Linked DNA regions of Homo sapiens: all the other regions are linked to region 2. Evidence: fine-mapped expression QTL. A gene starts in region 2. Each other region holds a variant in brackets. All regions are shown on one strand. Distances are from middle to middle. Region 1 overlaps ADARB2 (adenosine deaminase RNA specific B2 (inactive)). Region 2 holds the start of ADARB2 (adenosine deaminase RNA specific B2 (inactive)). Region 3 overlaps ADARB2 (adenosine deaminase RNA specific B2 (inactive)). Region 4 overlaps ADARB2 (adenosine deaminase RNA specific B2 (inactive)). Region 5 overlaps ADARB2 (adenosine deaminase RNA specific B2 (inactive)). Region 6 overlaps ADARB2 (adenosine deaminase RNA specific B2 (inactive)). Region 7 overlaps ADARB2 (adenosine deaminase RNA specific B2 (inactive)).

Region 1 (4,488 bases), 540 kb after region 2:
GCAACATAGGAAGACTCTGCCTCTATGAAAAAATACAAAATAATTAGGCTGCGGTGAGCTATGGCTGCACCACTTGCACCACCATACTCCAGCCTGGGTGACAGAGTGAGACCCTGTCTAAAAAAAACACACACACACACAAAGACCAGGTGCAGTGGCTCACACTTGTAATCCCAGCACTTAAGGAGGCTGAGGTGGGAGGATCGCTTGAGCCCAGGAGTTCAAGACCAACCTGGGCAATATGGCAAAACCATGTCTCTATTGAAAAAAAAACAAAACAAACAAACAGAAAACACTTCCCATTGTTCCCTGAAGGAAAAGCTCAGTTACAAAAAATCTCCTTTCCCAGGATTTGTTGCCATTCTCTGACTTATCGGTGAACATCAAGGAAAAGATTGACTCTGAAGAGCCACCATCCAAGATCCAGGGAGACACACTGTGGAATCTGTGGAATGAAGGTCCTCGGTGACAGGCGCTGTGTGTCCTCCCACCATCCGAGATCCAGGCAGACACGCTGTGGAATGAAGGGTCCTCAGTGACAGGCGCTGTGTGTCCTCCCACCATCCGAGATCCAGGCAGACACGCTGTGGAATGAAGGTCCTCAGTGACAGGCGCTGTGTGTCCTCCCACCATCCGAGATCCAGGCAGACACGCTGTGGAATGAAGGTCCTCGGTGACAGGCGCTGTGTGTCCTCCGACCATCCGACATCCAGGCAGACATGCTGTGGAATGAAGGTCCTCAGTGACAGGTGCTCTGTGGCTTACGACCATCCGAGATCCAGGCAGACACTCTGTGGAATGAAGGTCCTCGGTGACAGGCGCTCTGTGGCCTCCATCTCATCCTACCCTTCAGAGCGCCCGACCTCACCCCTCTGGTAGAAGCTCGCACATCCAGTGGCCAGCCCTTCCCTTGCTTTCTGGGAGAAGCACCGTGACTTGTAGAAATGACCACAATATTTTTTTAAATGAAGTTATGCAAATCTGATAGACTGAAGTAAATGTTTCATAAAATCAATGACTGTTTAAATTGTAGGACTAAATTGTTTGTATATAAATATTACCTTTTATATTCCATTTGAGTTTTATGTAGATGAGCACATTACTTTAATGACCTGCATTTGCAGAGGGAGAGAGGGAGAGCGGCTCCCCGAAACCCCCACCAGCCAGATGGCTGCCTTTTCTTGCATGAGATTAAAAGATGTTTCTCATTCATGGAGATGCTTCTGAGGCAAATTAATATCGCTGGCTAAATTGCTTGTGTTTTTGGAATAAAATTTAAAGAGAACTTTTTAAAGCAATTGGTATCACGGGTTCTCGGAGAAGATTACTCTCCAGGTAGATTCGGTAATTAATGGAAAGAATCCTGTGTTAATTGACTGCTTCGGGAAGGGAAATGTAATGACTCCTTATTAATCATGAAAAGAGACGCTGCATGCGGGGATGGCAGTAATTGCTCTAACAGTGGAGAAATGTTAATTAATGAAAAGAACAATGATGTAAGAAATTAGCTACGTAACGCTTGCTGCTGAAGGAGGTAGGATTTTAAGCACATTATTTAGAGTGGAAACCATAGAATGTTGCTTCAAAAAACACACACATGGAACCTCTTGCCACCCAAATTTAAGGGGAAAAAATGTCAGTGCTCTTGGCATTTTTGCTTGAGGAAGCAAAAACATTCACCCAGAGCTATATTTATTTCAAACAAAATGGCCTTGTTGTTCATCTCCAATCTGGGCTTCTGAAACCAAAATCATGCCCAGACCAAAACAAGGTCATTTGTTAATGTAATTTCAACACAATAGGTCATTTTGACTGCTAAGGACAAAGGGAGTACTAAGTATTTTTCCCTAAACTAAAATAAACAAATTCCATTTATAGTATTTCCCAGCTAATATAAAGAAAAATTCAGATTCACTTTTGGGACAGAGTATCTTTTTAAAAAAATCTAATTCTAAGTCCCACAGAGAACATAACAGTTTCCACTCTAACGACTCATTTTCAGAAAAGAGAG[C/G]AGCATTTGTTAGCACACATGGGCCTGTGGAGCCCAGTCCCAGGCAACAGTGTCCCCAGAGCCCCAGTGATGGCTGGGTTGGGTCTGGGGCACTCCCAGGGAGCTCCCCAAGGTCCGCACGATGGGAAGACTGACAGGTCCTCAGGACCAGGCCGCAGACGGACAGAGAGGACCAGGCTCCCTGGGCTCCTGGGTGGGGCTCCGCTGACTGCTGGCTCTCCCCACAGGTGGAACGTCCTGGGGCTGCAGGGCGCGCTCCTGTCCCACTTCGTGGAGCCCGTGTACCTGCAGAGCATCGTGGTGGGCAGCCTGCACCACACGGGCCACCTCGCACGCGTCATGAGCCACCGCATGGAGGGTGTCGGCCAGCTGCCCGCCTCCTACCGGCACAACCGGCCTCTCCTCAGCGGTAAGAACCCCCTTCCCGGGGGCCCTCCACCTCCTTCCCACCACCAGGCCAGACACAGGTGTGCCCGGCGGTGCCATCCCTCGCAGACTTCATCCATGTTGGCTAGTGGCAATTTAGGATTTAATGGGCAAAGTCCTACGATTTTAAAAAGAAAAAATGAAAGGTTTCAGCATCTCTCTGCATATAGCAATAGGCCAGGTCCTGATGTGAATTCGTGATTGTGTGATGGTGCTGTTTTCACAGCGGTGTCTGAAGGAGTTCTGAAAACAGAATCACTAGTGTTGGGCTCACCCAAGAGGCCCCACCTGCCCACCTGGCCGCCCACCTGCCCACCTGCCCACCTGGCCGCCCACAGGAGGCGATGCTGAGGAAGAGCCAGGTGGGCGAGGAGGGGCGGGGGGCGCCAAGGTCACGTGGCCAGAGCGGGTCTTCGGAACCCAGGGCCCCGGGCCCTCCACACCCTCCAGAGGCTGCCAGGTTACTCCGCGAGTACTGGGCCGGCTTCGCACCAGGATTCCCCACAGCCCAGATGTCCTCAGAGACCCGAGCCTCCCCAAGCCTCTACTTCCCCACGTTACCTGGGGCCTGCCCGGGCTGCCTGGCACACAGCCAGCTGCAAGGATGAAGAGTCCCTTGGCAGCTGCGAGGTGCCCTAGAAAGCCCCGGGAGTGGTCTTGGGAGGGTTTTGTGAAGGACACACTGACAGGAGGCGACTCCTGGCCTTTCACAGGAACAGCGGGAAGCGGGGGGGTGGGTTTCCGAATCACCGCCAGCCTCATGCTGGGCCTGCAGAACACCAGGTCTTTGAGTCAGCCTCCCTTGCTGGAGTGGGAGAGCTCTCTGAAGGGCCTGCCTGTGGCAGAATCAGGCAGATATGTGGGGGAAACGGAGAAAACCTCTGCCCCAGAAAGGAGAGGATTTTCACCTGTTTGCCAAGTGGCTCCTGCACTCTTTTTCTGCGCGTTTTCCTTAGGCCATCCCCGCTCTTTGTCCAGCACCTACTGAAGGGCTTATTTAAGCTTGCGCAGCACAAGGAAATATGGAGTACAAATGCAACCACGCCCTCCCCAAGCCACCGTCAACGGAGCAGGTTTTGCCCTCCCTGGGCACTGGCATGTCACCCTCAGCAGCCAGTCTCCCAGTGCTGATTTTCAATCATGTGTCCATCTGGGAACATGTCAACATAAATAAAAACAGGAATGTCCAATCCTAAGTGTGAACACAGTGAATTTTAGAAAACGCAATTAGAGAAATTCAGATCCACCTGACATCATTGAGTGGCACAGATAATAGCCAAGCCCGAGAGACACCTGTCTGCTTCCGATCCCAGGTGGCACCTGCCACACCACGGCCGGTGCAGCCTGACTAAATATTTCAGCCTCCATTTACATGCTTATTGGGAATCTGGTTTTCATTATTTTGCAGATGCAAATGAGCCTAAATCTTGGTACCTTGCCTGCATGCAACCCCTAAGCTGTCCCTGCATTGTTCCTGATGGACATTTAAAAACCAATCATGCAAATTTTGAAAAGAAATCATCAGAATTTCTTGCACCAAAAGAAAGAGAGAGAGAGATCTTGCACAGGGATAATAATAAAAAGCACCCTCAAATAAGCAAATGAAGTTTGCTTGAAGCTTCCCTCAAGGTCAGTTTGCAGAACTGCCTTAGAAGATGAAGATTATGTATTAGCAGAATGAGGCCCAGCAATTTAGATATGGCTAAATCAGCTCTGAGTTAAAAAGAAGCAACCAAGCTGAAAAAGATACCCTTACTCACACAGTCACGGGATGCATAGTAATGTTCTTGAAGGATATACTTGAAAAATTCTGCACTTTCCAGTCTAAATCTATGGCAAAACTTCAGGACCAGAAGCCCATTTCGAGGATGTCTCAAACGCTGAATCCTTCAGCAAAAGTTGCATTATTTCCTGAGTACAGATAGCCTAAAGGAGTTTGCCCTTGGTCCTTCTCAGTGAATTCAGTAAGATGAACAAAATGATGGGGATAGTAATTAATAAAACTCTATGCTTTGAATAATCATCCTTTTAGGAAAAAGTGAGATGAAATA
Region 2 (4,488 bases):
CTAAATGAAGTGTTCAAAGACAGTTTTCAGTTTTGTTTCCCCACTCCACCAACATCAGAAGAACATTTAACAGACACGTTACTTTCCGGCCACCATACCTGCCCTTGGAGTGAAACAAGGGTTCATGTATACGAGTCTCCCAGACAGCACGGTTGCTCCGTGTGATGATGGAGCTATTGGGGCCATTAATAAATGCTGACCACCTTGTGGGGGCTGTGTGTGTGTGTGAAGCTCTTCTGAAGCACCTTCCTTCGGTGACTCCACCCCCTGATGGGTTTTCTGCAGATACAGAAATAGGGCAACTCTGGATTAGTGCAGCACATTGTGTGAAGCTCAGAAGTTTCACAGGCAGAGTCCTAGAGCTGTGTTTCTCGATATAGTTTAAGCACTCAAATATCTCGGGTATTGCAGAGAGGAAGTGAGAGAGCTATGTGCCTTCTCAACCCTCGCTGGGAATTATCAGCAGAGCTGAGCTGTGCTGTCATGGGAACAGGGTTGTTGAAGCCAGCCCTGAAGAGGGATGTTGGTTTGATTGTGGTCCTCAGTCTGAGTTGGACTAGAAGGTTCAACATTCTAAAAGGAAAACGCAGAAGCCCTGTCTTTCTGAGGCTTGTCTGCAACATACGCTCATTCCTTCCAAATTATTTGCTGGAAAAAATTTAATAAATAATCATAGAGTAATTAACATGTTCCAGTTCCTGTCTATACTGGTTGATACTGATTCAACGAGTATGAATGAACTTATGAGGTGGGTGACGTTGTTATCCCCAGTTTACAGATGAGGAAACTGAGGCACGGTTTAACTTACCCGAGGTCATAGCAGTAGAGTTAAGATTTGAAATCAAATGTCTTACTCTCTCTCATCAATGAAAACTGAGCTACGATCTATCAGCTCAGCACATAACAACACAGGATCATCCTAATTATTTCCAATGTCCCCCAGAGTGATTCTTTTTTCTTATGATAAAAATTATCTGGAAATTTCTAGGCACATAAGCAGCTGAAAAGGTTGCATGTGAGGCAATGAATAGCAGAAATATTTGTGTGCCATTTTTATATCAACATGTTAATGTGTGCTAATGAATTTTAGAGTGGATTTTTTTAAAAACATGACTATTGTAATTAAAAGCTTATGTGATTTAAATACAAGATGCAATGATGATTACCAGATTCTATTCCTCTTTATATTTTACATAAGACTTCCAGGGTTCCATAAGTATAATCTTGAAACATAGGACATTCCTGGAAAAAAAAATTGCTTAAAACTATTTCAGTGTGCAATCCACCTCTTTGTAAATGTTACTTTCTTCCATCCAAATATTACATTTGGCAACAAAACTCTCCGCTGAGAGCTTTCTCTTCCTTTTGTGTCATTGTTCCCTAAATAAAGCAACACATGAAATTCCTGACGGCAAAAATCAGACTCAGATCCCAAAACCTCTGTCTTTATGCAAGATTTATCTTTTGCATTGGAAACGGCCAAGGAATATGAAGAGGGGAAAGAAGAGGCAAACAGACAAGCATGCAGGCTCTGAGGAATAAATGCCCCTCAGGACGCTGTCTCCTGGGGAATTGCAAACCTCAGTCCGTTTCTGAGGAAGTGCGGTCTCTGCATTTCTGAAAGAGGTATTTCCCCCCCTTGACACAAGGAGCATGGTAATGAATTGACTAGTTAAAAACTGTTGGTTGGAAAAACCCGTCCCTGTGTCTTTCTGAGCAGGGCGAGCTGAGCTGTCCGCGAGGCTGCGGCAGGAGGCCTCGTCCTCCCGGGCAGGGTCCCTCCTGGAGGCTCCCCCGGTCTCTCCCAGACGCACCCGCGCCGCGTCCTTGTTCCCCGGGAGCAGCCTCCCTCCAGCCGCCGGTCCTGGGAGCTTCACCGTCCAAACGGGAGCTGAGTTTGCAAGCGGCCAGGCGGCGGTGCGGCTGGTGCTGCTGCTGATGTCAGAGCCAGAAAGCAGTTGTGATTGGATCTAATTAGACGCTGCTGCAGCAAATAGACAAGCTCCCTGCGTGATTGGCTTCAAAGTGGCTGGTGCCAAACAACTAGCAGAGGCGCAAAAGTAGCCTCCCTGCGCTGGGAGCCCAGAGCAGGAGGCAGAGCCCGCGGGAAGCTCGGAGCACTCAGGACGCCGCGCGCCCTTCCCCGCCCTCCCTGACCAGGGAGCAGCTCGCTCCAGGCGCCCAGCCGAGGCCCCCAGCCCAGTGGGAGCAAGTCATAGAGAACAATTCGAGAGACAGAGAGACGGAGCGCGCTTTCCTGCTCAGTCCTGAAAAGTGAGCCGCTCCCGGGTTTGCAACCTCAAGCTTCGCAGCAGCGGCGGCGGCGGCTGCCGGGAAGGAGGCAGGTGCAGGTGCAGGAGGGAGGCGGCTCTGGGCTCCGCGCCTGGGTCTCGGCCATGGCCTCGGTCCTGGGGAGCGGCAGAGGGTCTGGAGGGCTGAGCAGTCAACTCAAATGCAAGTCCAAGAGGAGGAGGAGGCGGAGGTCCAAGCGGAAAGGTAAGGACCGCGTGGCGCGCCGGCCCCTGCCCCCCTTCACCCCCGGCTTCTCCACCCCGGCCTCTCATGGGGTCTCCGGGCTTGTCCGTTGTGAGCAGCTTCACTTTGGGGTGCTGGCGGGATGGCTGCTCCGTGCAGGGCGCTCGGGAGTTCAGATCCCGTGGAAATGTCTGGGGCCTCCTCTTGCCCAGAGGGGACAGTGAGCAGCCACGCTGCGACATGTTTGAGGGACCCGGACGAAGTGGGGCGAGGGCGGCGAGGAGCTCCCCGGGGACCCCGCGCGTCTCCGGGCCCCGCAGTCCCCAGTGGCCGGCCGGGCTGGCACTGCCTTCCACCCTCCGGAGGCCATCTCGTCTCCCAGTGCCAAAGGAATTACCCAAAAACGGGGGAACGAGCCCTCGCGCCAGCTACTCCCATCCAAACTGTCCCGGAGGAAGGGATAGGCGAAGCCCTGCGATCGCCTCTCCAAATTGGCTGGCAGTTTTTACTCAATGTGGTGCCCGTCGATTTGTAAACATTGGGTCGTAAAGAGAACACAGGGCTCGTCCTTGGAGAAATAAGCAGAAATGAATACAGGAAAACAGAAAGAAGCATCATATTTTGTTAGTGGTAGAAAAAAACCGCAAACCAGGAAAGCAGGAAAAGCAGCCGGCTGACAGCGGCCACTGACAAACTCAGCTGTGCCTTGTTACTGATATTCCTGGGGCTGGGCCGCGCTGAAGTTAGTCAATGCTACAGCAAGGGAGGGCTTTCACACTGGGGATTTTGCAAAATTAGCAATCGCTCCAATATGAGAGCAATGCCCCCAGTGCCATCGTAGCCTGTGTGCATGCCAGGAAGAATTAAAAGATTCTTCTCATGCCGACCCTTCTCTCCTAGAGGAACCTGTGTTATTGTCAGTTCCTAGTGAGCCTGCAGGAGAAAGTTCAGTTCTAATCATGATTTGAAATGTGCTGATTTTTTTTAAGTGAGGTAGAAGTATAAAGAACGGTTGGAAAAACACAGCTAGAATTGATCAGCTTTGCCAGTTGTTTGAAAGCAGGAGGCAACGTTAGGTGTGTTTGGGGTTGTCCATCTTTCCTGAAGAATTTTCATCTTTGCATTGGCCTAAGATAAGTTTCTACCAGACCGTTTCCTGTGTGCCCTCGAACCGTCACCAGGTCCTTTATTGCCTCTTCCAATAATAGAAATTATCCAGACAGTCAGCAGGCATAAATGTCAATAGCAAACAGTCATTCATTATGACCGAACGTCAGGACCACTGGGAGGGATTGGCCCCCACAACTTCCTCAAAAGGTTTTGGAGCCTTTGGTTTCAGAAGGGAGGTGATGTTGTGGTTCTCATTTACCTCTCAGCTGCTAAGTGTGCGCTTGCGATTCACTTTGTTGTTTGAAATTATCATTTTGAAACAGACCTGTTAGTGTCCTCCAAAGATAATGCCAACACAAAGTGGCATTGATATTGAGAAAGTCACCGGATTGAATAATGAATATGACTTTTAAAAGAGGAAAAAGGAAGCATCATCTTTACACTTGAAATGTTCACATTTCCCAATATTTTTTGATTAGTCTATTTAAATATTTAGAGTTGAAGAATGTGGAGTAATAGTTCGCAATAATGCATTTTATAAATATAAACAGGAGGAAAGTGTTGCCTTTCTCCAAATTCACTTGCCTTGCCAGGAAGCGTCAGTCATGCTAGCTTAGAAAGTATTCAATTTAGGGGGAAAAAGGAAATCTGGGGAAAGACTTCATTTGCTATAAACTTAACTTTAGCAATTCAAAATAAAACTCCTATAGCAAATATTTCCATACCTTGGTTATTTTGAATATGTCAAGTCCCTTAATTTTCATAGCCAAAAATTGAAGCGGGAAAGGGCATTCAGGTTTTGTACACTGATTTCTGTTACGAAGAGATTTCTGGCGTGCGGGAGAATTTCCCAGGGCACCTGCCGGCAGCTATCTTGATAGGAAAGTCAAATCAAACGGCTAA
Region 3 (4,488 bases), 150 kb after region 2:
CCCTGACCGTGGCAGGGTCCGCACCTTTCCACCATACGTTCTCCCCTGGAGGCTGGCGGTCAGGCTGAAGGTGGGTAGGTTCCCATATGAAAGTATCAGTCCTAAAAATGCCCACCATCTGTTCGCCACAAATGTGGCAGAATTCAGAACCAGGGTCTTTCCGATGTGAAAGGAAGGAATTCGGTGCACATAAATAATAACCAGTGGACTGATGGAGCCATGCCAGTAACTTGTGCATGAGAACACAGGAATATTCAGAGGAAGAGGGGTACACAAGAAGACAAAGAGCCTTAGGTCGCTTCAGGTTACGTCTCCCAGCCACAGGGTTTTAGATTTGGGAGCTTTTTAAAATGTGGATGAGGGTGCTGTGCTGTGGTTCTGGGCTGGATAGGCCTGATCAGAACAAAGCCAGCCAGGCCTCAAGCCGACTCCTCCAAGCATCGGAGGCCATGCTGCCTCTGTCAGGAGCTCTGTCTTGATCTGTATCGATCTTGTCATCTGCGAAGCTCTCCACATCTTTTTCTCATGAATTTGTGTCAAAGCAGATCCCACACCCCATTGCCTCCAGAATTGAGTGTGAACCCCAAGGCAGGGGCTGGCGTCCATCCAGGGTCGGGCTGTCTTCCTGCCTTTGTTCCCTGACTTCTGGCTGTCGAACCCACTTTCTCCTCCTTAGGCCAAAATTCCGAGCTCGGTATCAGGCATAGAAAGGTTTTCTCTGCCTTCATCCAGGCGATGTTCCAGCCGCAGAAGGGTGACTCTTGGTGCCATCTTTCTGCGTTTGATTGTTCACCAGCAAATCCTCCCAACAGCAGCACCGTCTGGCCTACCTAGCTCTGTCTACCAAGGGGGAATCTGTTTAAGACAATCTGCACATTAAATTCCCATCATTTGGCCTATCAAGTTCCTTATATTGGTTGCTCATGCTCCAAAAACCCAAGGAAGGGCTTTGTTGATCACCAAATCCAGGCTTGTTGGACCCGCTGCAGATAAAAAACCACCTTGACATAGCATCCGGGGTATCTCAAAATGGGAATAGAGGAAGATACGTTCAGGGTTTCAGGCCTGGGCTGGGCAGCTTTAAGGTGAGTGTTTCAGGGCAGCAACTGGAGGGATTGGGGAGAGGGTGTGACCTGTGAGCTTAGAACTGCTTGTCCTGCAAGGTGGGTCTTGAAGTGAGCCTTGAGCCAGGGTGGCCTCAGTGTGTAGCCTGTGATTGGGTCAAACAAAGATTTACTGGAGCCAAGTCATTTTCCCCTTGTCATAGTATTGTTGCATTAGTCCGCTTTCAGCTGTTGATAAAGACGCAACCGAGACTGGGTAATTTATAAAGAAAAAGACACTTAATGGACTCACAGTTCCATGAGACTAGGGAGGCCTCACAATCATGGCAGAGGATGAAAGGCACATCTTACATGGCGGCAGTCAAGAGAGAATGAGAGCCAAGAGAAAGGGGAAACCCCTTATAAAATCATTAGATCTCATAAGGCTCACTACCGTGAGAATAGTACAGGGGGAACCGCCCCCATGATTCAATTACCTCCCACCAGGTCGCTCCCACAACACGTGGGAATTATGGGAGCTACAATTCAAGATGAGATTTGGGTGGGAACACAACAAACCATATCAATTGTTTAGCACAGAAAAAAATAAAATGCTTGGTTTCAAATTGTTCAGCTGAGGCACAAGAAAGAGATCAGTATTATTTCTCACGGGAACCCACGCTATCTCCCCACACTTACCTATATTGCTTTGTAAGTGCTTATGAAAAAAAAAATCAAAACAACAAATAGACCAAATGCATAACCATATTCACACAGAACCACCTTCTTCTGTCTGAAACCGAACCTACACCATGATCATACACCCTGCTGAAGGAGTGATTTTCAAACATTTTTTCATTTTTCAAGGGAAGCAAGAAAGTCCTATATTTAAAACAAAGCTGAGTTCTTCTGTCTGGATGAGGACTGGAACCTCAGCCGTTCCCCTTTGCTGGAGGAACCCCTGAGGGTCTCTAAAGGGCCCCCGGACGCCCAGAACCCGACTTACATCTCTGGAGCCTTCATGTCAGAAATCATTGTTCTTTTTGTTTTGTTTTGTTGTTTTGTTTTTGAGGTCAAAATAATTCTTTAGGGACAAATTAATTTTACTCTCAAACTATGTGTACTCAGGAAAGGAGATAAGCACCTTTGGTAAAGGAAATGAGTATACAAGCGGTTATAATCATTTTAGCCATTAATGAAACAAAAATCTTTTGAATGCCAGAAGACAGAAAATTTGCAATTCCCCGGTGTAATTGAGTGCACGTTTATAGACTTCATTTTAGTTTTGGAAATAAATTCTTGCACAATGGAGATACCCTGGTTAATTTAAGTTATAATTAAAAACAACCCTAACTTATATATTGATTTCATTACATTGTATTTCATTTCTGTTTATTGTTTCATATTTTAACGAGTTAATAAAGGAGGCGTTTTATATA[T/C]TTCTTTATGCTACTCACAAACCCACACTACGTCCTGAATAGAAATCACACTTGTGCAACACATTTTTTTCTTCCCAGCTACAGTAATGAGAATGTTTTTCCACTGACATTAAATAATCGCAGAGAATCCAGGAATCTATTCTCTGTGTAGGAAGGAGTCGGTTTTCCTTGTTTTCTGGGCAAAGCAACTTGAGATTTACTTGAAAGAAAAAGGTGTTGAGAAAGATCTAACCATCACCTGATTGAGTAAGGTGAGCAGATCCCCTCGGGGCAGAGATGCAGGTAATCACTTAGGAAAGTGAGATCCTGACCTTGGCACCATGTTGAAATGCCAGCCTGCATTGATCTTCCCACAAGAAAGGCTTCACTCTATTCCGGAAGTGAAGTCAAATGCATCTGAAAATGTGGGCTGAGCCATTCCCGACCATCCCGCCAGCTGCTCTCAGGTGCCTCATCTTCTGGATTTGGTGGCTTTCAGATCAAGCACTCGGGGTCCTTCAGCCAATACCCTTTGCTGCCTCATAATTCTTGTAGTTGCTGCAGGAGTAGAAAGCCAAAGACTGGGGTCAGAAGAACTGGGTTGGACTTTTTGTGGCTGTTTGTTGTTAATAGACTTTAATAATTTGGGGGTTGTGAACAGAAAATACCTGAGACAGGTCTCAATCAATTTAGAAAATTTATTTTGCCAAGGTTAAGGATGCACCCATGACACAGCCTCAGTAGGTCCTGATGACGTGTGCCCAAGGTGGTCAGGTCACAGTTTGGTTTTGGGGTGTTTTTTGTTTTTTGTTCGTTTGTTTGTTTGAGATGGAGTCTCGCTCTGTCACCCAGGCTGGAGTGCAGTGGCGCTATCTTGGCTCACTGCAAGCTCCGCCTCCCAGGTTCACACCATTCTCCTGCCTCAGCCTCCCAAGTAGCTGGGACTACAGCCGCCCGCCACCCCACCCAGCCAGTTTTTTGTATTTTTAGTAGAGACGGGGTTTCACCGTGTTAGCCAGGATGGTCTCGATCTCCTGACCTCGTGATCTGCCCACCTTGGCCTCCCAAAGTGCTGAGATTACAGGTGTGAGACACCGCACCCAGACACAGTTTGGTTTTATAGATTTCAGGGAGACCTGAGACATCAATCAATATCAGTCTGCGTAAAATGTACATCAGTTGGTCTAGAAAGGTAGGACAACTTGAGGTCAGCAGGGGCTTCCAGGTCATAGGTAGCTTTTCACCGAATACACAATTCCCATGTGAGAGGAGGGTAGAGCAGGAATCATCACGTAAGCCTTGGTCTGGCTCAGTGACTCTGCATTGTTACATAAGCAATAGGGCAGAGGAAGCAATTAGATATATGTTTGTCTCAGGTGCACAGGGGGATGACTTTGAATTCTGTCTGTCCTTTGTCCACAGGGAATTTCCTTGTGGGCAAATCACGAGGGAAGCATGTAGCTTTTTTTTATCTTTGTAGCGATCTTATTTAGGAACCAAATGGAAAACAGGTTTGTCCGATGCAGTTCCCAACTCGACTTTTCCCTTTGGCTTAGCGATTTGGGGATCCTGAGATTTATTTTCCTTTCATGGGGTTCACAGCATAATTGAGTGGTGAGTACAGAGTTACCCCATGCCCCTGTCCCCAGTATAGTCGCAGCCTCCCCCACTGTCCGCACTGCCCATCAAAGGGGGTTTTTGTTGTAGTCGATGAACCTACATTGACAATCACCACCACCCACCCAGAGTTCACAGTTTACATTAGGGTTCACCATAGCAGAATGTATTGTACATTCTGTGGGTGTAGACAAATGTACAATGGCATGTATCCACCATTACAGTATACAGCACCATACAGGGTGATTTTTCTGTCCCAAATCCCATGTACTCCACTTGTTTACCTCCCCCTCCTCCAAACCCTGGCAACCCCTGATCTTTTCATTGTCTGCAAATTTTCACCTTTTCCAGAATGTCCTAGAGATGGACTCCTACAGGATGTAGCCTTTTCAGATGGTCTTTCTTCTTTC
Region 4 (4,234 bases), 490 kb after region 2:
TCCCTCGGTCCAGGCTTCGCGTCTCCTGTGTTGGGAACGTGGTGCTGGCGGTGGGGGTGAGAATCATGAAAACTGAATATGCAAACACTTCTTGGGCCACGTAATTGTGCTGAGTGTGGCAGAGTCTGGAGCCAAACGGAGCTGGGAATCAATGAGGGGTAAAGGGAAAGCAGTTGCTTTTTTCTACAGCTCCAATTTCCACGGAATCCAAAGAGAAGGAGCAGGCCGGGGCCTCACAGGCCACAGCACCTATTCCTGAAGAGCTGTCCGTTTCCACCAGAGACTGCATGCGCACCGGTCGTGAACACTGAAACTGGTTAGGAATCGTTATCAATGTGTTTCCCATTTCTCTAAATACCAGCTTTAACGAAGCTGGAACCTGAGGGGTGGTTTCTGCATCACGATGTCATCCTTGTGAACCATTTCTCAACAGTCCACATGTCACTGACGGCCTGAGTGAGATGGTGGCTCCCACCCCTGGCAGAGTCAGTAGCAGCTGCCCACCCCAGCTCCCTGTAGCCTTAGATCCTGGTCCCATCTGCTCGTCAACTTCTGGGACCCCCGCTAGGGGGCAGCCCCCGCACCCAGGATGGCTGAGAGAGGAGGAGGCCTGGACCTGGAACCCGGCAGCTGCTCACGAGCTTTCCTGGGGGAGGAACCTCAGGGCGGCTGGTCGTGTCCTGTTCTGATTAAAGCGGCGTGGGGAAGTCTGGTCACTTCCTGAGCTCAGGAGCAGTCCCGTCCCACCAGGGAGGGGGCAGTGGGTAGACAACAGGACCAGGACCATGGAGTTCTCTTCGGGCACAGAAACGGGGGCTGCTGGGAGAAGCTGGGATGAGCGGAGAGAGCAGTGGACATGGGCAGGAGGCGGGGGCTGTGCTAGACCGCTTTGCCTGGAAGGAAGGAGGCTGGACAGACAGACCCCAGCTGCAGAGCCATGGGGGCAAGGATGCTGCTGGGCCTCTGCAGGTTACTTCCCCAGTGCTCGGTCCCTCCCGGCCCCGAATTCTCCCTGGCTGTCACTGGTAGCTGCTGACACCACCCTTTTATCTCACGAAGAAAGATCCCACGGTGAGGCCCAGAGAGGGCAGATGCCCTCAGGGCTCAAGAACTAAGTTCTCAGGGGAGAAAAAGTCACATCAGAGGAACAAGTGTGTGAGAAGCGAGAAGCGCTCATGACCAGCCAGCACTGTTTTTATTTAAGATGGGAGGGAAGCCTGCTTCTGGCGTGACATTAATTAGTCGATTTTATTTAAGATGGGAGGGAGGCCTGCTTCTGGCGTGACATTAATTTGTGTGTCACCTCTTCCAAGAAATGGTCCGGACGTGTATTTACAGGTAACTCTGTGGACGTGGCCGCGGTCAGCGGCTAACGCGTCTCCGTGCTGCCCTCCCTTGGCCTGCGATCCGGGCCCAGCCAGTGGCTGTCACATCCCAAGGCTCCTGGGCACCCGCAACATTCCTGCCACCTCCAGCCGAAGGGCCTGGATGATGGATTTGTTATTGGATCGGCAACACTGACCCGTCTAATGACACGGACTCCCTAGGGAGCCCTTGCTTGGAGTATTTGGTGGAAATTCTGACTCGTGTCCTCAAGGAATTCACCATCTAAGTGCAGAGAAAATACACATCCACACAGACCTGTTAGAGCACAGCAAACATTGGCTTGTGTCTTCCAGCTTCTCCTCCTTAAACAAAGTGATGAATATTATACTTTAAGGACATTACGTTGGGGGTTGTTTTTGAGGTTTCTTTGTTGTTTGTTTTCAGTCCCTGAAGAGAGTATCATTTTTGTGGATGGGGTTCCTTTGACTATGGTTAAAATGACACATCCAGCCTCCTTTCTGTGTTAGTATGACAGGTTCATC[AGCTCCTGTCCT/T]GTGTTTCTGTGTTAGGGTGAAGGGTTCATCAGCTCCTGTCCTGCCCTGATCCCGTTGGAGGACAGGAGAAAGCACAAAGGTGGTTAGAGGTTGGGCAGGAAGCCCAGGCCGCAGCTAGCACTGCTCCCACTCACAGGGGACCTGGGACTCAGGTGGAGAAAACTGTCCTGGTAGTAAGTTTGACCTCAAAACTCTGCTCCTATGGTGCCTAAGGAGCATTTCAGCAACCTTAAGGATAGCAGAGGCACTCTGAGCGCTGTCTCAGGCCACCATGAAGTAGATGGGAATCCCTCAGGCGGGCGGTCACCCGTGACAGCCTGGAGCACACAGAAGCCTCGCTTCCCAGCTCTCAAAACGCAGTGTTTCCAAGGTTTCCTAACCCAGGGAAACCGCTGTTGTGAGACCCTGAAAAGACCGAGGAGGAGGGAGACGGGGGCCGTGGGCCACGCTGCTCTGATGCTATCTGTGTCCCCAGGCCTGGATGCTCGGCAGGCGCAGGTCGTGGCCCTGTCCTCGGGGACCAAGTGCATCAGCGGCGAGCACCTCAGTGACCAGGGGCTGGTGGTGAATGACTGCCACGCGGAGGTCGTGGCCCGGCGGGCGTTCCTGCACTTCCTCTACACGCAGCTGGAGCTGCACCTGAGGTGAGCGGCTGGGGACGGGCTCCAGGGAAGGCGGACGCCGCGGCTGGGGGCTGCCAGGGAGCAGATGGGGCCCCATGCCTGGCTCAGAACACGCTTCCCTCTATCCTGGCACAGGGTGAGCCAGAAAGCATCCCTTTTTATTCAGACTAGAGACATCCCTGGCACACCAATAAAGCCGCCGTGTGCGCTGGGAAGATGCTAAAATTCCAGGCTTCCTCCTTACTCCACGTTTCCCTCCAGAAAACACCTTTGCAGCCCTCGTCCTTCCGGGCAAGGCCACCCTCTCCTGGCCTCGGTTCCCCATGCCCCCCACATTCCTGCACTGCCCCCTTTTCCGCCGTTGCCCTCAGAGAACGTGAGTGCAGTGCCCAAGGGGTGGCTTGGAGACGCGCTGTCTTCTTGCCTCCTGTGCCAAGTACATGTGAAGAGGCCGCTGAGGCCTTGAGAACTGTGCCCCAGTATTGGGATTCCCAGGGTTCCCTGGCCTGCTCTGGCCATCAGGCATTGGTGGCTGTCATGGGGCAGCCTCCTGTCCCTGAGACACTTTAGAGAGGAGCAAAACCCAGGTGGTTTGCAGCACGTGGCCTCCGCGACACACCCCCAGGCTGGGCCATTCAGTCCCAAGGGCTCACTGTGGGCTCCTCTCCTGAAACGCTCCCTCCTGTGTCTGCTGTCTACTCTTTCACATCCCTTGAAGCCATCTGCGTTCCTCAAATCTACGAGTAATGGGACCTTGGGGGGCTTTGGCAAGGGTCATCTCCATGCCCATTAGCTGTGCAAAAGCCACACAAAAGGAGAAAGGCCCACGTGTAGCCCTAAGCAGACGCTGCTGAAAACAACACCTTAACACACTCAGCTCATTCTTTTTTTTTGAGATGGAGTCTTGCTCTGTCGCCCAGGCTGGAGTGCAATGGCATTATCTTGGCCCACTGCAACCTCTGCCTCCCGGGTTGAAGCAATTCTCCCACCTCAACCTCCTGAGTAGCTGGGTCTACAGGCGTTCACCACCACGCCTGGCTAATTTTTGTATTTTTAGTAGAGACGGGGTTTCATCACGTTGTCAAACTCCTAACCTCAAGTGGTCACCCTATCTCGGCCTCCCAAAGTGCTGAGATTACAGGCATGAGCCACTGTGCTCAGCCCACACTCAGCTCATTCTTATCTGAGCCTCTGAGCAGGGAGCCACAGGTTGAACCCATCCCTCAGTTCCCTGAGGCCTGCGGGGTGCAGCAGGAGTTGGATATGGGGGAACAGAAATATCTCAGAATGTAGGGAAGGATTTCTCCTAAATGTCCACCTGCTCAACTGGGACTATCACCAAGATCCCTCACTCTTGTTTGTGTCAGAGAAGGCAACTGGACCAATATTTACCAGGAGCTGGTTACATGCTTGGTGCTGTGCCACCAGCTGGGGGGGTCCACAGACAGGTGCACCCGACGCCTGCCCTGCATGGGGAACCAGCACAGGGGAGGGGGAGTCCAGGGCAGCCACGTGGCTGACAGGCCCTGTGCCGGGGCCCAGGCTTGGGATACATTTGCCAAGGGTCCTGGGGGAGGCAGCCGGGGCAGTGGGGGATGGTGGCTGTGGGCAGAGTGCAGGCACAGAGGCAGGAAGACTGCTGGATGCCGCAAGGACTTCCTGTGGAGAAAATGTCTGTTCTGTTGCCTGTGTGATCTCAGGGCCCCACAGAACACAATCCATCACCCATGG
Region 5 (4,488 bases), 470 kb after region 2:
TGTAAGTGTTAGTTAATTATTGGTAATGGCACTATTTACAAATTATTTAGTCAGTGCCTGGCATACAAAGTTCTGGGGAATCAGCAGAACAAGAGACCAAATGCCTACCCTTGTGGCTCTTATATTCTAGTGGGGAATGGTTCATACAGAACAATTTAAATCCAATATAAAAGAACTATAAAAGAATTACATACACACAGGGTTGCTGGTCCATATAAACAAAACTTTGGTAAATTTTAAAATGTGGAGTGTTACACAGATTTCTGCTACAGATTTCTGAATAACTCAGGTTAAATTAGTGTCTTGGTATGAAAAGGAAAGGAGGAAGGGTAGGGGGAGGGAGTAGAAAGGGGAGGGGAGGGGCACCAGCCACCCTGGCTTCCTTATTGTGCAATGCACTTCCAGCCCCAGAGGCATAAGTCAGTATGACCTGGAAAGTAAGTTTGTAGCATTTCTCAGCGCTGGAACTCAATATCTTTCCATCTTTCTGGGAAACAAATCTGGCAAGTTTTGGAAGCTACTGTCAAACTTCATGTGGAAAATAGTAATGTTTTAGAGGCTTGTGGGGAAATGATACTTCTAAGTTGCCAGTGAATACAATGCTTTATGTGTAGGCAATTTATCTATATGAATTAAATTTACTACATGAAAATGAGACTTCATAAGGTAGAGCTTCACTAATTAGTGACTTCTGAATGCTGAAGAATAACTTGCTTAAATTTACTTTCCTATTGTAAAGAGACAAACACTGATTTTAAAAAATTAGAAATGTGCAAAATTACTAATACAAACATTTTTAGATACTCATTTACTTAAAGTTGATGTGCCATTTGATCTTAATTCTAGTTCAGTTATTCAAGCAAATACCTAAGAAATTCTCAGAGTAATATGTCTTGTTCTAGTTGCTGTATATGTCACAATGTTTTAAAATTAAACTTATTTTGAAATAAAACACAATTTGATTTGCCCCTCCTGTGGATGGGATGCCAACTCATTCACATTTATTAGCTCCTGAAAGTTCTGTTTATGAATCAGAGACCATTTCTTAGCCATTATGAGAAATATAATCACAGAAATATATACTTATGAACAGAAGTTTTTATTTTTATCAAATTAATGCAGTCATATGGTAAAGATTCTAAAGAACTTCTGAATGAAAAGCCGTATTCTCCCACTCCACCCCTCACTCCCCTTCACTCTCAGAAGCCACCTCTAACCATTTCAAATTTTTTTCTTGTGATTCTAAGTACTACATACTTCTATATTTCTAGATTTTCAGTTCTAGATAACATCTATTGACTCATGCTATTAACATTTGATACTTTTTTCATTTTCCATTATTATGTTTGTAATGTGCAATTATAGATAAACCTTTATTTCTTATTGCATCAAATTTGGGTGTGGTTTCACTCCCTGTTCTGTGCGTTGAGGGTGGCAGCCCTCAGCCCCTTCCCCACTAGCCAGCCTCTCTCAATTATACGTGTTACATCTTTACACCATCATCACTGGTATTTATATCCTTTCTTATGCCCATAATTAAGTCTTCTCTACTTTGTCTTTTGAGTGATTGTAACAGCTGAACAGCATCTATCTGATGAGAGTGTTGCAGATATTCCCACTACAGAGCCAAGCAGAACCACCTTCAACCCTCCCAGCACAGTTCCGCTGGGAAGGGAGCCTGGCTGCCTGGCGTCAGGACACGCAGAGGCTCCGCCTCCACCCCCAGCTCCAAGTTGTGTTGTGTTTAAGTTTGATTCACTTGTGTTGCTAGACTTGCTTATATCGCTTTTGAAATATTGTGCGTGTTTTTTTCTGGAATGTCTTCTTTTTTCTCTTATTGAAAAAAAAGAAAGAGGAAGATTGTGCCTTTACCATACGTGCTAAGTCACGAGGCTTCTATGGAAGCATCTCACAGAGGGTACCTGCCTCTCTCCCAGAGAACTCCCAGGCCAGGCCCATCGAGGCACGTGCTCTGCAGACCCGGCGTCCTGCTCTTCCAGTGGGACACCATCTCCGGAATCATTGTCTTCCTCCTTGCTTTGTCTCCCCTCATAGAGAGCTTCCTCAAGAAGCATCATCTAAAACGATGGGAGATCAACTTTGTGAATATTCCCACATCTCAAAATTCCTTGATTTGCTTGTCATCCGTCTCAATAGATTCCCAGGGGGGAATTCTAAGCTTTCAATTATTTTCCCTCAGTATTTTGAAGTAATGTTTCCATTATCTTTTATCCAATATTTCTGACCTGCCTCACATTTTCTCTGCAGTGACCAGCACCCACACCTACCCGGGAGGGGGAAAGGTTTTTTTTTTTTTTT[TA/A]ACTTGGATTTAAGAATATGTTTAGGTGTGAGCCATTCACTTCTCTTGACATATTTAAGCTATTTGTATAGTTTTATGTCATTTGTTTTATGAATTCCTTCATTTACACGCATTTTTGTTAAATTTGCAACACTCTATTAATTTTCTGCTTTTACTTTTAAAATTTGTCTCTTCATTCTTTTACTCGATGTTTTTGGAGATTTCTTAAATTTATCCTACAGCTCATAAACTGCCTTTCCCTCCTAATTTTTGCAACCTATTTTCATTATTTAAATCTTTCCCTTATCCTCCATTCTTCCTTTTTCAAGGGAGCCTCTTGTTCTGTAGCTGTAACTTCTGCTCAACTCCTCTGAGGAGACGCCCTGGCCCGTGTCCTCCAGGCCAGGGGCAGTGGCTTTCTGTTTCGCGTGGTCTTTCTCCCGTGTCCTGCTGATGGCTCTCGTCTGAATACACACACTTGTGAACGAGACGTTAGACTGGTATTGTAGGCGTTGGCCTGGTGTCTTCTGCGGTGGTGGCCGGCTGGTCCTTCTCCCACAGGCTCCCGCCCAGATGGGAAGGCGGCCCAGGGCCCATTTCCATCAGCTCAGGTCTCCTTAGGATTTGTGGGCACGGCCCCCCCCCCACCCCCCACCACAGCGCCAATGAGGTGGGGTCCCAGCCGGCCCTGGACCCTTCTCAGGCGGTCCTTTCCTCCCTGTAGGGTGGGACTCCATCTTTCATGCTGAACAAATGCTTCCACCCTCAGGCATTCTCCCCAGAGAGCAGGATGCTTGGCCAACTACCACAGCCATTTACTTAAAATAATCCAGTGAGCCCTATGCCAGGAGCACATGCGCTGTTGCACCGGACCTACAGGCACGAGGCTGGGCCCTCCCAGGCCTGACCTCGAAGACAGCTGCTCTCTCTTCCACTGGGAAGCTTTGTTCTCATTCTCACCACTCCTTCTCGGCGCCGACCCACACGCCATCTTCTCAGAGGGCGTGGACCGTGTCTTCCGGGAGAGCGTGGACCTGGCTCAGGCCGTCTTCCGGGAGAGCCTGGGCCCCCTCTCAGGCCGTCTTCCGGGGGAGCGTGGACCTGGCTCAGGCCGTCTTCCGGGGGACCCTGGGCCCCCCTCTCAGGCCGTCTTCCGGGGGAGCGTGGACCTGACTCAGGCCGTCTTCCGGGAGAGTCTGGGCCCCCCTCTCAGGCCGTCTTCCGGGGGAGCGTGGACCTGGCTCAGGCCGTCTTCCGGGGGACCCTGGGCCCCCCTCTCAGGCCGTCTTCCGGGGGAGCGTGGACCTGGCTCAGGCCGTCTTCCGGGGGACCCTGGGCCCCCCTCTCAGGCCGTCTTCCGGGGGAGCGTGGACCTGGCTCAGGCCGTCTTCCGGGAGAGCCTGGGCCCCCCTCTCAGGCCGTCTTCCGGGGGAGCGTGGACCTGGCTCAGGCCGTCTTCCGGGAGAGCCTGGGCCCCCCTCTCAGGCCGTCTTCCGGGAGAGCGTGGACCTGGCTCAGGCCGTCTTCCGGGAGAGCCTGGGCCCCCCTCTCAGGCCGTCTTCCGGGAGAGCGTGGACCTGACTCAGGCCGTCTTCCGGGAGAGCCTGGGCCCCCGCTCAGGGCGTCTTCTGGGAGGGCATGGGTCCCACTCACCCCTTCTCTCCATCACACAGTAGTTCAGCGTTGTTCCCTCCCGAATCCTCTCGTTTCACTGGAAAAAGAGAAGCAAATGTTCTCCCCCATCCTCTTGAACCCCTACAATACTTACTAGCCAAACTGTCAGGGCACCGCTTTATTTAGAAACTCTTGTGTTTCATGAGCGAATGATTCTTAAAGGGGCTGTTGATGGTGATGCCTTGCATTTAATATGCAGATTTATAATTTTGACAGCATTTTTACATACACTAATCAGTTTGATTGACATAACCCCGATAAGTGGGGAAGGCAGGAATTCTTATTAACACTTCAGGAAATGCAGACACGAAGATGAAGAGGCCAAGTGGCTTTCCTGATGCCCTGAGGGCGGGGCAGAGCTGAAATGTAGAGCTGATGGTCCTTTATCCTTCCCAGTTCCAGGTTCCTTTTGGAAGCAGGCATCAAGGCCCGGTGGTGACCATGCATTACCTCTTTATGGGAAATTATTTTTCGAGTTTATTAATAACTAGAAAAAAGGAGTTTTCTAGAGTACA
Region 6 (4,488 bases), 120 kb after region 2:
GCATCAGATAATACGAGGAGAACCCCAAATCGTCTTTAGTGGTTTAAAATGGAGGCAGTCTGGATTCTTATTCTCTTTCTTTTTTTCTTTGGTTTTTGTTTGTTTTTGTTTTGTTTTGTTTTGTTTTTTCCGAGACAGGATTTCACTCTGTCACCCAGGCAGGAGTGGAGTGATGCCTTCAAAGCCCACTGGGGTCTCAGCCTCCTGGGCTCAGGTGATACCCCCACCTCAGCCTCCCAAATAGCTGGGACCACAGGTGCGTGCCACCATGCCAGGCTAATTTTTCATGTTTTTAGTAGAGATGGGGTTTTGCCATGTTGCCCAGGCTGGTCTCAAACTCTTGGGCTTAAGTGATCGATCCGCCTCAGCCTCCCAAATCGCTAGATCATACGTGTGAGTCACTGCACCAGCCTTGATTCTTACCCTGAATCTCTTTCACCAGCTGAGCTACCTTGGCCAAATCATTTCATCTTGCTGTGCCTCAGTGGCCCCATGAACAAATGATGATAATAATAGTGCCTACTGAAGGGGCTGTTTGAGGATTAAATGCTGTGGGTCTCTAATAAGCTCTATGAACATTAACTATTTGACTGCAAACTCAGCCCTCGTACTGGGCATTCCTGAGGGTGAAGGCCCCTGGTCCTGTAGGCGGGAGGGAGGTCTCCAATGTCTTCAATAAGGCAGGGAATCCATGCGTGTGCAATCGCACTGATGACAGAGAAGGTGATGACGGTACAACGGGACAGACAAGGAGTTCAAAGCAGTTACGGCTCACGGTGGACCATGCCTGGGAAGGCGGCCAGAGGCGGGTGTAGGCGCTGACAATGGAATTCTATGGGTAGTGACAAAAATTCTATGGGCTGTGTGAAATCTAGTTTTCTAACAAAAATTTTCCCAAAACAACAGTTTATATTCTTACTCAAGTGTAATCAAGTAAGTGCCATTCTAGCTATACAGTAGAAACTACTGTAGTTTGCAGTTCATGTATTTGTTGCAGCATTACTGACATGCTTCCATTCAATAGACTTTGCCCGTGCACAATTCAATCATTTTCACACATCTACAGTGTTGAGCTGCATGACCACCTGGGATGCGCCTCACGTCCTCTTGAGAATGTGGGCTTCATGGATGTGTGTGCAGAAGGAAGCTTATTTTTTCATTTATTTAATGATGTTTTTGCAACAATCCAATCCCACCCCCAGCCCTGGGCAACCACTAATGGATGCCCCATCTCTAAATATTTTCCTCTTTTGGAGATTTTGTATAAATAGAATCATGCCATACGTCACGTCTTCCTTCCAACTCCTGCTCAGCACAATGTTTTTGAGGCTCATCTGTGTTGGGGCGCGTGTCCGTAGTTTGCACCTTTGGCCTACGGAATGCTATTCTAAGGTTTGGATAGAGTTCCTGTTGTTTCTCCCCCTCTCTGTTGATGGACGTTTGTGGTGTCATCAGCTCTTGCTTGTTATGAATGAAGCCACGTGAGCATTCCCTGACATGCCTTTGCGTGGACGTGTTTTCATTCCTCCGAGGTGGGTGCCTAGGTGCTGAAGTACTCTGTTATATGGCGGGTATATGTTTAGCTATTTAAGAAACAAACAAACAATTTTCCAAAGTAGCTGTTGCATTCTAAATGCTGAGCAGCCACGCATGAGGAATCGCCTCTTTTCATAGTTCATCCAACACTTGGTATTTTCTGTCTTTTTAATTAGAGCTATTCTAGAGGGTATATAGCTGTATCTCATTGTGGTTTCATTTACATTTCCCTAATTACTAATGACGGTATACATCTTTTTAAGTTTTTGTTTTCTACATGTCCTCTTTAGTGGCATGACTGTTCAAAATTTTACTCCTTTTTACTGGATTCTTGTCATTACTGAGTTGTAGGATTCTTTATATATATATTCTAGATAAAAGTTCTTTATCAGATATATAACTTGCAAATATTTTCAACCTGTATAAGATTTATTTTTTCATTAAAGATGTGTTTTGAAGCTCAAAGTTTTAAAAGTTGATGAAGTCCAACTTTTTGATATTTCCTTAATGAATTGTGCCTTTTATGTTGTGTCTAAGAATTATTTGCCAAATTCAAGCTAATAAAGATTTTTTCCTGTTTTCTTCTAGGAGTTTTAAAATTTTAGCTAGGGTCTTTAGGTCTGTGGTTCATTGTGCGTTTTGTGTATAGTGTAAGGTAATGGTGTATATTCATTTCTTTGAATGTGAGTATACAGTAGAACCAGAACCATTTCTTGAAAAGAGTATCCTTTCCCCATTGAAATTTCTTAGTACCTTTGGAGGAATTAGTTGCCCATGGATGTAAGCATTAATTCATGAACCCTCAACTCTGTTCAATTTATCTAGATTACCTTACCTTGGTAGTAAATTTTGAAATCAGCTAGTATAAGTTTTCCAACCTTTTTCTTTCTTTATTTTTTTGCAAAATTGTTTTTTACTATTAGATCCTTTGCATTTTATTTTCATACATATTTTAAGAGGAGCTTGACATTCTCTACAAAAAAAATCCTGGGATTTGAGATTTGGCAGAGATTGCATTGAATCCATGGATAATTTGGGATGAATTGTTATCTTGACATCTTGACATTACTGAGTCTTTAAATCCAGAAACATGGAATTTCTCCCTATTTACTTAG[G/T]TCTCCTTTGATTTCTTTCAGTAATGTTTTGTAGTTTTCAGTACACAAGTCTTGCATTTCACTGTTGTTGTTGTTGCTGTTAAGTGTGTTCCTAACACAGTGAAAACTCATCTCTACAAGTAATACAAAAACTAGCTGGATGTGGTGGCATGTGCCTGCTGTCCCAGCAATTCCAGAGGCTGAGGCAGGAGAACCACTCGAGCCTGGGAGGCCGAGGCTGCAGTGAGCTGTGATCATGCCACTGCTCTCCAGCCCAAGTGGCAGAGTGAGACCCTGTCTCAAAAAAAAAAAAAGAAAGAAAGAAAAAGAAAAAGAAGAAACTATTCCTAGTTATTTATTTTTGAGGCTCTTGTAAATGTAACAATGTTCTTGTTTTTCTTTTCAGATTGTTAGTAATATATAAAAAGACGATTGATATGTTTATACTAATCATATGTCCTGCAATCTTGCTAAAATACCTACTAGTTCTAATATATTTTTTGTTGATTCTATCAGATTTTCTACATAGATGTTCATGTCATCTACAAATGAATACATTTTAATATTTCCTATGCTGGATGCCTTGAATGATTGGCATGTTTGTTTATTTTGTTTGTTTTGTTCTCATACTTGCAAGGACCAGCAGTATACTGTTGAATTCAAGTGTGAAAGTAGACATCCTTCCCTTGTCCCTGATCTACAGGAAAGCACTCAGCCACTCATGACTAAGGATGGAGCTGGGCATGAGTGATTCATATATGCCCTTTTATAGCTTGCAGAAGTTCCATTGTACTCAGAGTTGTTAAGGGAGTTTGTCATGAATGAGTACTGGATTTTTCCAATACTTTTTTCTGCATGTATTGTGATAATCAGGTGTCTGATCTTTATTTGATTAATATAGTATATTACACTAGGTGATTTTTACATTTTAGGCCAACTTTTCACTGTAGGCGTAAATCTAACTTGGTCTTTACATACACCCTTTTCATATGGTGCTTGATTCAGTTAGGTGATGTTGTGTTAATAGTTTCACATCCATATTCATAAGAAATCTTGGGCTATACTTTTTGTGATATTTTTGTGCTTGCTATCAATATAATATTAGAACAACTGAATGAATGGAGAGTCGTCTCCCCTTCTGCATTTTCTAGAACAGTTTGTAAAAGATTGTTAGTATTTTTTCTTTATTTAACAAATTCACCAGTGACACCATTTGGGCCTGGGCCTTTTCTTGTGTAAAGGGATCTCTAATTGTTAGTTTAATTTTCTTAATTGTTATTTTTGTAGTTTTTTTATTTCCTCTTTAGTCATTTTTGGAAATCTGCGCATTTCCAGTAATTTCCCCCATCTCATCTAAGTTGCCTCATTTGGGCCATAAAGTTGCCCATAACATGTGCTTATGACCCCTTTAATTTTTGTAGATTGGTGATAATGTTTCTTCTTTCATTTCTAATTTTCATAATTTGTGTCTTCTGTCTTTTATTACTGGTCGGTCAATCTAAATATGTCAATTTGTTGATTTTTTTGGTTTTCTATTTCATGGATTTTTGCTCTAATCTTTATTATGTCTTACTTTGATTTTAGTTTGCTCTTATTTTTCTACTATATTCACATGGAAGCTTAGAATATTGATTTGAGATCTTCCTTTCTTTCTGATATAGGTGTTTAAAGCTATAAATTTCCCTCTACTGTCTTAGTTGCACCCCATAAATTTTAATATAATTTTGTTTTAGTGCAGTTAAATTTTTTTCTTATTTTTCTTGTTTTTCCTTTATTGATCCATGGGTTATTTAGAAGTATATTGTTTAATTTCTAAATATTTGCAGATTTTCCAGATTTCTTTCTGTTGTTCAATTCT
Region 7 (4,488 bases), 460 kb after region 2:
ACATGGGTTCAGAAAGGGAGCCGCTCAGGTGACATCATGTTTTGTTTGATGGAACTAATGTTTGTGTCCCCCGAAATTCATATGTTGAAGCCCTAATTCCCAGTGTGGCTGTATTTGGAGATGGGGCCTCTAAGGAAGTAGTTCAGGTTAAGTGAGGCCATGAGAGTGGGGTCCTGATCTGATGGGATTAGTGTTCTTGTAAGAGGTGACACCGGAGAGTGAGCTCACTCACTCTGAGCCAACAAGGTGATGCTGCCACAGACATTCAGTTGAGAACATCCTGTCCCTGACCTCCCCCAAATTCACATCCTTCTTGCATGGCAAATGCACTCATCCCATCCCAACAGCCCCAGAAGTCTTAGCTCATTCCAGCATCAGCACTAAGGTGTGAAGTCCTGAGCCTCAACAAAACTTCACCTGAATCAGGAATGGGTGGGACTCGGGGTGCAATTTGCCCACCCTGAAGCTGAGCTCTCCCCTCCAGCCGTGAACCACGGAACCCAAACAAGTTCCATGTTCCCAAAATATAACAGTGAGCCAAGCATGGAGTAGACGTCCCTTTCCAAGAGAGAGAAAGAGGCAACAAGGAAAGGATGGCAGGGCCCAAGCAAGTCCAAAACCCTAAGGAAGTACTTACGGCAAAATGAGGTCATGGAGTTGAGGCAGCTTATCCAGTGGATTAGTGTCCTTATTAAAGATGACCCCACAGGCCAGGAACGGTGACTCACACCTGTAATCCCAGCACTTTGGGAGGCCAAGGCAGGAGGACTGCTTGAGCCCAGGAGTTTGAGACCAGCCTGAGCAACACATTGAGACCCTGCCTCTACAAAATACTGAAAAATTAGCCAGGTATGGCACCCTGTGTCTGCGGTCCCAACTACTTGGCAGGCTGAGCTAAGAGGATGACTTGGGCCCTGGAAGTTGAGGCTGCAGTGAGCTATGATCACGCCACTGCGCTCCAGCCTGAGCAACAGAGGGAGACTATGTCTCAAAATCAAACAGACAAACAAACAAACAAATGATGCCATGGAGTCTGGTCCTGCTCTGTCTTCATGCATACACAAAGGAGAGTTCATGTAGCACATGACAAGATGGCAGCACCCACGCGCCAAGAGAAAAGGCCTCAGAAAGAAACTGACCTGGCCGACACCATCATCTTGGGCTTCAGCTTTCAGAACCATTAAGAACGTTAATTTCCGTTGCTTAAGCTGCCTAGTCTATGGTATTCTTTTACGGCAGCCCCAGCAGATGAAGACAGTGTGAAAAGGTTGGGGAAAAAAATGCTGATAATAACTGGTGGGAAAAATAACCAACTTTTTTCTGAAATTTTACTTTTTAGATAATTCATCCTTGAGAGTTTCACTTATCCATACACGCAGTCATTCATTCGAGAGGTTGATGACAGCCATGATCACTCATGGTGCTATGGCAGGACCACGAAAATGCAAAACGCATCCAAGCCATGCTCCCAGCCACAGATGCAGCACTGCATAGGAGTCACACCATAAAACATGAACTGCTAGGTAATCATGCAGGAAAAAACATGAGTCGACCCCTACATGAATGTTGCTGGAGTTCTAAAGGCAGTGGATTGCAGATGAGGGAGAGGACCTCCAAACAGGGGAATAGGAAACCTTTCGGGCCTAGGAAGGAGTTTTAGAGACTGAGGCAGGGCAGGACATAATGGATTGAGAAACAGGCTATGCCATAAAAAAAAAAAAAGAATGAAATCATGTTCTTTGCAGCTACATGGATGCAGCTGGAGGCCGTCATCCTAAACGAATTAACAGAAAAAGCCAAATACCACATGTTCTCACTTATGAGTGGAAGATAAACATAAGAGTACTCACAGACATCAAGATGGGAAGAGCAGACACTGGGGAATACTGGTGGGGAGGGAGGGGGTTGAGAAACTAACTACCAAGTACTGTGCTCACTACCTGGGTCACTTGTACACCAAACTTCAGCATCACTCAAACCTGCACATGTACCCACTGAACCCAAAATATAAGTTGAAACTTAAAAAAAA[AAAAAG/G]AAAAAAAGGACCGGGTGTGGTGGCTCACACCTGTAATCCCAGCACTTTTGGGAGGCCAAGGCGGGAGGATCACCTGAGGTCAGGAGTGCTAGACCAACCTGACCAACATGGCAAAACTCCATCTCTACTAAAAAGTACAAAATAAACTAAAATTAGCCAGGCATAGTGGCGCGCGCCTGTAGTCCCAGCTACTTGGGAGGCTGAGGCACTAGAATTGCTTGAACCTGGGAGGCGGAGGTTGCAGTGAGCCGAGATCATGCCACTGAGGTCCAGCCTGGGTGACAGAACTAGACTCTGTCTCAAAAAGGAAAAAAAGAAAGAGAGAGAGAAAGAGGGGAAGGAAGGAAGGAAGGAAGCAGAAAGAAAGAAGCCCACTTGATCACGGTGGATAAGCTTCTTGATGTGCTGGTGGATTCGGTTTGCCAGTATTTTATTGAGGATTTCTGCATCAATGTTCATCAGGGATATTGGTCTAAAATTCTCTTTTTTTGTTGTGTCTCTGCCAGGCTTTGGTATCAGGATGATGCTGGCCTCATAAAATGAGTTAGGGAGGAGTCCCTCTTTTTCTATTGATTGGAATAGTTTCAGAAGGAATGGTACCAGCTCCTCCTTCTACCTCTGGTAGAATTCGGCTGTGAATCCATCTGGTTCTGGACTTTTTTTGGTTGGTAAGCTATTAATTATTGCCTCAATTTCAGAGCCTGTTTTTGGTCTATTCAGAGATTCCACTTCTTCCTGGTTTAGTCTTGGGAGGGTGTATGTGTCGAGGAATTTATCCATTTCTTCTAGATTTTCTAGTTTATTTGCGTAGAGGTGTTTATAGTATTCTCTAATGGTAGTTTGTATTTCTGTGGGACTGGTGGTGATATCCCCTTTATCATTTTTTATTGCATCTATTTGATTCTTCTCTTTCTTCTTTATTAGTCTTGCTAGCGGTCTATCAATTTTGTTGATCCTTTCAAAAAACCAGCTCCAGGATTCATTAATTTTTTGAAGGGTTTTTTGTGTCTCTATTTCCTTCAGTTCTGCTCTGATCTTAGTTATTTCTTGCCTTCTGCTAGCTTTTGAATGTGTTTGCTCTTGTGTCTCTAGTTCTTTTCATTGTGATGTTAGGGTGTCAATTTCAGATCTTTCCTGCTTTCTCTTGTGGGCATTTAGTGCTATAAATTTCCCTCTACACACTGCTTTGAATGTGTCCCAGAGATTCTGGTATGTTGTGTCTTTGTTCTCCTTGGTTTCAAAGAACATCTTTATTTCTGCCTTCATTTCATTATGTACCCAGTAGTCATTCAGGAGCAGGTTGTTCAGTTTCCATGTAGTTGAGCAGTTTTGAGTGAGTTTCTTAATCCTGAGTTCCAGTTTGATTGCACTGTGGTCTGAAAGACAGTTTGTTATAACTTCTGTTCTTTTACATTTGCTGAGGAGTGCTTTACTTCCAACTAAGTGGTCAATTTTGGAATAAGTGCGGTGTGGTGCTGAGAAGAATGTATATTCTCTTGATTTGGGGTGGAGAGTTCTGTAGATGTCTATTAGGTCTGCTTGGTGCAGAGCTGAGTTCAATTCCTGGATATCCTTGTTAACTTTATGTCTCGTTGATCTGTCTAATGTTGACAGTGGGGTGTTAAAGTCTCCCGTTATTATTGTTTGGGAGTCTAAGTCTTTTCGTAGGTCTCTAAGGACTTGCTTTATGAATCTGGGTGCTCCTGTATTGGGTGAATATGGGCAAGGACTTCATGTCTAAAGCAACGAAAGCCAAAATTGACAAATGGGATCTAATTAAACTAAAGAGCTTCTGCACAGCAAAAGAAACTACCATCAGAGTGAACAGGCAAACTACAAAATGGAAGAAAATTTTTGCAATCTACTCATCTGACAAAGGACTAATATCCAGAATCTACAATGAACTCAAACAAATCTACAAGAAAAAAAACAAACAGCCCCATCAAAAAGTGGGCGAAGGATATGAACAGACACTTCTCAAAAGAAGACATTTATGCAGCCAAAAGACACATGAAAAAATGCTCATCATCACTGGCTATCAGAGAAATGCAAATCAAAGCCACAATGAGACACCATCTCACACCAGTTAGAATGGTGATCATTAAAAAGTCAGGAAACAACAGGTGCTGGAGAGGATGTGGAGAAATAGGAACACTTTTACACTGTTGGTGGGACTGTAAACTAGTTCAACCATTGTGGAAGTCAGTGTGGCGATTCCTCAGGGATCTAGAACTAGAAATACCATTTGACCTAGCCATCCCATTACCAGGTATATACCCAAAGGATTATAAATCATGCTGCTATAAAGACACATGCACACGTATGTTTATTGCGGCACTATTCACAATAGCGAAGACTTGGAACCAAGCCAAATGTCCAACAATGATAGACTGGATTAAGAAAATGTGGCACATATACACCATGGAATACTATGCAGCCATAAAAAATGATGA

Evidence for each region.
Region 1: its variant is fine-mapped to the expression of ADARB2 in cerebellar hemisphere (GTEx, PIP above 0.99). The same link has a PIP of 0.9 or more in atrial appendage, cerebral cortex and nucleus accumbens.
Region 3: its variant is fine-mapped to the expression of ADARB2 in subcutaneous fat (GTEx, PIP 0.96).
Region 4: its variant is fine-mapped to the expression of ADARB2 in putamen (GTEx, PIP above 0.99). The same link has a PIP of 0.9 or more in caudate, hippocampus and hypothalamus.
Region 5: its variant is fine-mapped to the expression of ADARB2 in whole blood (INTERVAL, PIP 0.94).
Region 6: its variant is fine-mapped to the expression of ADARB2 in lung (TOPMed, PIP above 0.99).
Region 7: its variant is fine-mapped to the expression of ADARB2 in whole blood (INTERVAL, PIP above 0.99).

Annotation. Positions count from the first base shown.
Region 1 is chr10:1,197,898-1,202,385 of GRCh38, reverse strand. ADARB2 (adenosine deaminase RNA specific B2 (inactive)) reads left to right here. Exons shown (of 10, transcript NM_018702.4): 8 at 2,239-2,420. Among named protein-coding and RNA genes, the nearest start is that of LINC00200, 40 kb to the right of the region's middle. The variant C/G (reference allele first, on the strand shown) is at 2,012.
Region 2 is chr10:1,735,059-1,739,546 of GRCh38, reverse strand. ADARB2 (adenosine deaminase RNA specific B2 (inactive)) reads left to right here and starts at 2,022. Exons shown (of 10, transcript NM_018702.4): 1 at 2,022-2,496. The coding sequence starts at 2,397. RefSeq lists a silencer at 2,073-2,132 and an enhancer at 2,094-2,690.
Region 3 is chr10:1,584,832-1,589,319 of GRCh38, reverse strand. All of the region lies in intron 1 of ADARB2 (adenosine deaminase RNA specific B2 (inactive)), which reads left to right. Among named protein-coding and RNA genes, the nearest start is that of ADARB2-AS1, 60 kb to the right of the region's middle. The variant T/C (reference allele first, on the strand shown) is at 2,483.
Region 4 is chr10:1,240,421-1,244,654 of GRCh38, reverse strand. ADARB2 (adenosine deaminase RNA specific B2 (inactive)) reads left to right here. Exons shown (of 10, transcript NM_018702.4): 5 at 2,356-2,524. Among named protein-coding and RNA genes, the nearest start is that of LINC00200, 83 kb to the right of the region's middle. RefSeq lists enhancers at 2,023-2,533, 2,534-3,045. The variant AGCTCCTGTCCT/T (reference allele first, on the strand shown) is at 1,869.
Region 5 is chr10:1,264,969-1,269,456 of GRCh38, reverse strand. The region is part of intron 4 of ADARB2 (adenosine deaminase RNA specific B2 (inactive)); the gene reads left to right. Among named protein-coding and RNA genes, the nearest start is that of LINC00200, 110 kb to the right of the region's middle. The variant TA/A (reference allele first, on the strand shown) is at 2,320.
Region 6 is chr10:1,619,877-1,624,364 of GRCh38, reverse strand. The region is part of intron 1 of ADARB2 (adenosine deaminase RNA specific B2 (inactive)); the gene reads left to right. Among named protein-coding and RNA genes, the nearest start is that of ADARB2-AS1, 95 kb to the right of the region's middle. The variant G/T (reference allele first, on the strand shown) is at 2,652.
Region 7 is chr10:1,275,836-1,280,323 of GRCh38, reverse strand. All of the region lies in intron 3 of ADARB2 (adenosine deaminase RNA specific B2 (inactive)), which reads left to right. Among named protein-coding and RNA genes, the nearest start is that of LINC00200, 120 kb to the right of the region's middle. The variant AAAAAG/G (reference allele first, on the strand shown) is at 2,030.